2 separate regions of the Homo sapiens genome follow, and region 1 is linked to region 2. Evidence: fine-mapped expression QTL. A gene starts in region 2. The other region holds a variant in brackets. All regions are shown on one strand. Distances are from middle to middle. Region 1 has its middle 5.7 kb from the start of COMMD5. Region 2 holds the start of ZNF251 (zinc finger protein 251).

Region 1 (2,904 bases), 100 kb after region 2:
CTGCAGGCGGCATGCCCGGTCACCCCACCATCTGCAAGCAGAAGTGGCCTGAGGTGAGAATGCCCAGACTTCTGGGCAGTGGCCTTGTGTCCCCACCTTCTGGGGGGGCCAGAAGGAAAAGGAGCCTGCAGACCAGGTCTGGGCTGAGGCAGTGGTGAACACAAAGGAGGGGCACAGAGTGGGGAGGTGTTCGCACATATCAGTGCCCACCAAGGCATCCAGCACACATGAGGCACGGAACAACCAAGCAGACAAAATAACTCACCAGTGGACACCAGTCCTCACTGTCAGCCACTCTGGAACATGAAAGGGGTGACCCTGGTGACAAAAATAAAGACTCCATATGGAAGACCTCCTTCACCCTGGGTCTCACGCTGCCAGGCGCAGTGACTCGTGTCTGTAATCCCAGCACATTGGGAGGCCGAGGCAGGAGGAGCATGAACTCCCTTACCAGGGCCTGTCTGGCAGCTGCCACCTCTGGATGTCCAAATTGTCCATAACAGAGTTGATGCCATGCCCTTTCTATCCTGGAAAGGCTGGCAGTTTTTTCTCACACAGATGGATGCCTATTTCAGGTACCAGCTGGCCTTTCCTACAGAGCCTCAGCCCACACCATTGTCTGGGGCTTAGGTTGCTTCATTCAGAGGCATGAATCCTCACACAGCGGCATCCTAATGGGACCCACCTGTATTGTAGCAGCCAGCCTCATGCAACTCTGCACTGGCCTTCTAGAGGCTCAGCTGAAGCAGCAGCTTGGATGCTCTGCTCTGAAAGGATGGCACCATCCTTTGGGATGCCATGCATTAATTTGGATACTTTTTATGGTGCTGTGTTCCCAACAGAAAGAACACATGAGTCTGGGAAACTAAGATTTGAAGCAGGAGTGGCCCAATTCACCCAGACTCTCCCATAACCTACTGGGAGATTTTGTGTTTCCTCTCTACATGGTTCTAGACTTTGTAGGGTTGGAGGTCCAGTTCCCCAGGAGCACACAGCAAGGATCCCACTGAATAAGCTACAGTTGCTACAAGGACATTTGAGCTTCTCAAACCCAGGGACCCACCGAGGTCCACTGTGTTGACAGTTGAGGTAATTT[C/T]AGGATGAGTAATGAACAGAAAAGAAGAGAACATTTCAGCCCTGAGACCAGTTCCAGTGATGAAGACTGTAGCTAATCCAACTAACCACTTCCTTCTGAGTTTCTTTTCAGGAAGAAAGACCCATGGGAACCAGGGTTCTCTGAACTGGTAAGAATTAGAACTGGCTGGGTGTGGTGGCTCACACCTGAAATCCCAGCACTTTGGGAGGCTGAGGCAGGAGGATGGCTTGAGTCCAGGAGTTTGACACCAGCCTGGGCAACATGGCAAAACCCTGTGTCTACAAAAAATACAAAAAAATTAGCCGGGCATGGTGGCACGTGCCTCTAGTCCCAGCTACTTGGGAGGCTGAGGTGGGAGGATTGCTTGAGCCTAGGAGGTGGAGGTTGCAGTGACCTGAGATTGCACCACTGCACTCCAGCCTGGGTGATGTTGGGTTTTGAAGGGAAGATGAGGGTTAAAGAATGACACACACACAGAGACAGAGGGTGGCTTAACAGCAACACAGGTATATTGCAAAAACCTGTGGAGATGGGCGACCAGCTTAGTCCCAGAGCCCATTGCCGCTTACAGGCTGGGGCAATTTATAGGCCTGAGTGGGAGGGGTCGGGGCAGGGGGTCATGGCCTGCTTCCTGGGAAAATGTTGATAATGTGTTCTTAGGATGAGGTGGTTCTGGCCCTTGTTCCGGCAGAATGTGGTGTTCTTTGCACTTTCTCCCAGCAGAATATAAGAGGCAGGCTGTTTCTCACCACCCAAACCCCCGTGGAATGTTTCATTTTGACCAAGGTCTGCGAAATGGTGGGGGACTTACAAAATTGTGCAGGTTGGACTAACATTCTTGCTTTATACTTTTTTTATTTTTTCGAGACAGAGTCTCACTCTGTCGCCCAGGCTGGAATGCAGTGGTGCAATCTTGGCTCATTGCAGCCTCTGCCTCCCGGGTTCAAGCGATTCTCTTGCCTCAGCCTCCTGAGTAGCTGGGACTACAGGTGGCCGCCACCACACCCGGCTAATTTTTGTATTTTCAGTAGAGATGGGGTTTCACCATGTTGGCCAGGCTGGTCTCAAACTCCTGACCTCAAGTGATCTGCCTGCCTCAGCCTCCCAAACTGCTGGGATTACAGGCGTGAGCCACCGCGCCTGGCCACCTTCTACTTTAATATAAAGGGAAGAGCGTGGTTGTTGATTATCTGGCTGCTTCCTGCTGAATAGTGGTGCTGTAATCAGGGTTTGGGTTTTGAAGCAGTGGGTGTCTGACTTCTGAGTTGCTTTCCTGGCGGCGCTGATACTGGACTTGGCGGAGTGGGATGGTATCAGTGTCTTTCTGGGTGGCTGCCTGGACAAGGGAGTTCAGCCTTTGGGAGGTGAAGTGGGATATGAAGGTGAGTACACACAGGCCAACTGTTAGGAAGAAGAAAATTAGGGGCCCTAAGAAGAGGTTACCCAAGGCATCCACTTTAGGAGGGATGACCCCTGCCTCTAAGAGTTAGTGGCTTGATGTTGGATTTCTGCAGACCCGTCTCGGAGCCTGCGGGCTGTGTCTCAAACAGTGCCGTATTCGTGAACATTTAAACAGCCTCCTTCTTAGAGATACACACATGTGCGCCCCTTCTCAGTGGCTGACAGGTCTACGGCCCTTCGGTTCTGGAGAACAACTCCCACAGGGGAACCTACCTGCCTTTGGAGGCTTGTGATGGAAGTAGGCATGTCAAGAGGACTGCAGAGATTTATATATCTATATAAGGCAGCTGAGGCTGATACACCCGACCCGCCATTGTGGTGCCAAGTGCGACAGAGAGGCTTAATCC
Region 2 (2,904 bases):
TCTCCAGCATCACATCCCGGTAGAGCGCCCGCTGCTGGGGGCCCAGCTGCCGCCCCTCCGCCTGAGAGAAGTACACGGCCACATCCTGGAAGGTCAGCGGCATCTCCTGCAACAAAACATCGCCGCTGCCCAGGCCATGCCCACGGGGCAGCAGCCTGCACTAAAAGGGCCCTGACCTGGTGGGGCCCCACTACCCAGGGCCCTGCTGTGGTCAGTATGAACTGTGTATCAGCAGGTCCCTGATGGGGCAGCTGAGAGCGCTGAGGACCAGCCAACTTCAGCTACACGGGGACCCAGCTGAGCTCAGAGCCCCTCTCCCTGCAGGAGGGCGAGTCTACCTCTCAGAACCCTTTCCTCACGGTTGCTATGAGCCCCTGGCTGGCCTTACCAGTTGCCGGGCTCACGGCTCCAGAGGAGAGTAGCTTCTGACTGGGATGGGGATGAAGATGAAGAGGTGGGCAGGAAGGAGGGTTAACTCACCTGGTGCCCTGGAAGCTGGAATGTGGCTGCCATTCTGTGTGCATGGGCTGCTGTGGTTTCCAAGAGAAGACAGGAGACTGCCCTGGCCTGAAGTCTCCCCGAACTTACCTTCAGTGGGGAGAACTCAGGCTCAGCCCCATTCAACCAGGGGTGTGGAAGGATGGCCAGGAGGCAGAAGCTGATTGCTGCTGTGGCCTCCTGGGTCGCGGGAGGCAGGTCACTATGCAGCACGGGCCGACGTGCCCTACTGCTCAGTGACTCCTGAAATCCCAGAACGGCCAGAGCCAGAGCCCGGGGGGATCCAGGGACGCCCGGCTAAGGGGTGAAAGCTGGCAGTTCCCGTGGTCCAGACCTGCTGAAGGCCCTGGAAATGGGGTGCAGGGCCGTTCTACCTGCCTGGCCAACCTGGGGCAAAGAGCCACGTGAGGGTGCAGCCTCACCAAGGCTGAGGACGTGAGAAGGAGGCCGCGGGGATGCTGCCGAAGGCCCCAGGCTCCGGGGAGAGGCCGGAAGCCAGCTGTGGTCCTCAGTCCAGCCTTCTAGGGCCGCGCCGCGGTCGCCTCCTCCCGGCCTCTGCAGCCCGTCGGTGGCTCCCGCGGCACCCAGAACAGGCTCCTCCTGGACTGGCCGCCGCCTCCCCGCGCCCTCCCCGCGCCCTCCCCGCCTGCCTGCCCGCTTGGCGCTCCTTCCTGGTCCGACACTGCCCCACCTGTTTGCTCGACCCGGGGAAGCCACCGAGGAAGCGCCGAGGAGCTGCGCAGTCGCACCGAGCCCGGAACGGACCCTCCCACAGAACCGGGTCCAGAGCCGGGGAGGGGGCGGGCTAGGATGAAGAGGGCGGGCCGGGCCGAGCTGCGCACACGCAGGCTTCCCCGCCCCCTGCGGGGCCTCAGTACGCCTCCGAGAACGCCGGGAACCGGAAGCCAGCCGCGGTTCCGCCCGGATTCTTCCGGGGCCGCTCTGGGATGACTGGAGGCCTGCGCCGTCTATGGTCGGGGAGGGGGAGAGCCCACGGCAGCTGAGCGGAGGGTCTGGCGCGGTGACGCTGCGCATCCGGGCCGCGCCGCGCTCGCCCCGACCCTAAACCCTCACCTGAACCCTAACCCCGCTGGGCTCCCGGCTCCCCCGTCGGTCACCATACATCGTGTGTCCCGATTCACCATAACCACCAGAAAGTCGCTTATGAAGATGTTACAATTATCGGGGCTCAGAACACAACGCCCCAAAATGAAGGCCTGGGAGGCAGTTTCCCTCTGACCTTCCCAGGCCTCCAGTCTCAGTTCTTTTCTCCCGCGAGGCTCCTCACAGAGTGAATCCCTTTTACCCAAGGCGAGTCCCAGAGGCCAGACCCCCAAAGCCAGCCACAAAACCTAAAAACACGACTCTGATGTTCCCCCCGCTTTTCTGTGTGAAAACTGGCGGTAAAGGCCGGGCGTGGTGGCGGGCGTCTGTAGTCCCAGCTACTCCGGAGGCTGAGGCGGGAGAATCGCTTGAACCCGGGAGGCGGAGGTTGCAGTGAGCCGAGATCGCGCCACTGCACTCCAGCCTGGGTGACAGAGCGAGACTCCATCTCAAAAATAAATAATAAATAAATAAATAATCCATTTATTTGCCTTTTCTCCAAAAATCTGCCTTTTATGAGTTGGCTTTCAGTGAACCTTCAGAGGGCAAAGAGGAACTTTCCCTTTGGCCCCTACACAATAAAGCATGGTTGAAAAAATAGCACTTGATAAAGGTGAGGAGACCAGCTTAGGAGCAGGGGGAGAAGGAAAGGAAAGCCAAGCCATCTTGTCACCCAGAATATAGTGTAGGCCCTGTACACTGTGTTAGAATCAAGGCAGAAATTTTATATCTGAACTTGAGACGATCAACGAGGATGGAGAATGTCTAGAAGTCTAAAGCACCATGCAAAGTCACACATGATTAAGAAGATGCCTTACATTATTAATATCAGTGCTGGGGAGATTGTGGAGAATTACGCACTGCTATGCTTGAGGAAGCGTGTTTAGTACAATGTTGAAAATGAATTAAGCTGTACATAAAGAGCCTTAAACACTTCAATTAATCTAGGAATCTATCCTATGGAAATAACAAAAATGACAAAGAGAAGGGTGCCCATTCCAGAGTTTGTTGTGTGTGTGGTTTTTTTTAAATAATGGGGAGAATTTGGAAAATAGCTAGTTATTCATAGAAGGGGAAATGGAAGATAATTATGCTTTTTGCAGCACAGAAATAGATAAATCTATTGTCTTCTGTACACTCAGTTGAACATTATGCAGCCATTATGTGTGGTATTTGAAAAAAAAGTATTGGCAGAGGGTAATGCTTATGAAATAGAATGTGAAAAATAGAATACAAAATTATATTTATGATATGATCTCAATTGTATATATGGGTGTTTAAGTTCACAAACTTAAGGTTTCC

Evidence for each region. PIP is the estimated chance that this variant, and not a neighbour inherited with it, causes the effect. A credible set is the group of variants that fine-mapping cannot tell apart.
Region 1: its variant is the best candidate, but not a certain one, in a credible set for the expression of ZNF251 in whole blood (TOPMed, PIP 0.86).

Annotation. Positions count from the first base shown.
Region 1 is chr8:144,857,307-144,860,210 of GRCh38, forward strand. No RefSeq gene overlaps it. Among named protein-coding and RNA genes, the nearest start is that of COMMD5, 5.7 kb to the left of the region's middle. The variant C/T (reference allele first, on the strand shown) is at 1,097.
Region 2 is chr8:144,754,216-144,757,119 of GRCh38, forward strand. ZNF251 (zinc finger protein 251) reads right to left here and starts at 1,316. Exons shown (of 5, transcript NM_138367.2): 1 at 1,190-1,316; 2 at 481-588; 3 at 1-106. The coding sequence starts at 513. All of the region lies in intron 2 of LOC107986986 (a long non-coding RNA gene), which reads left to right.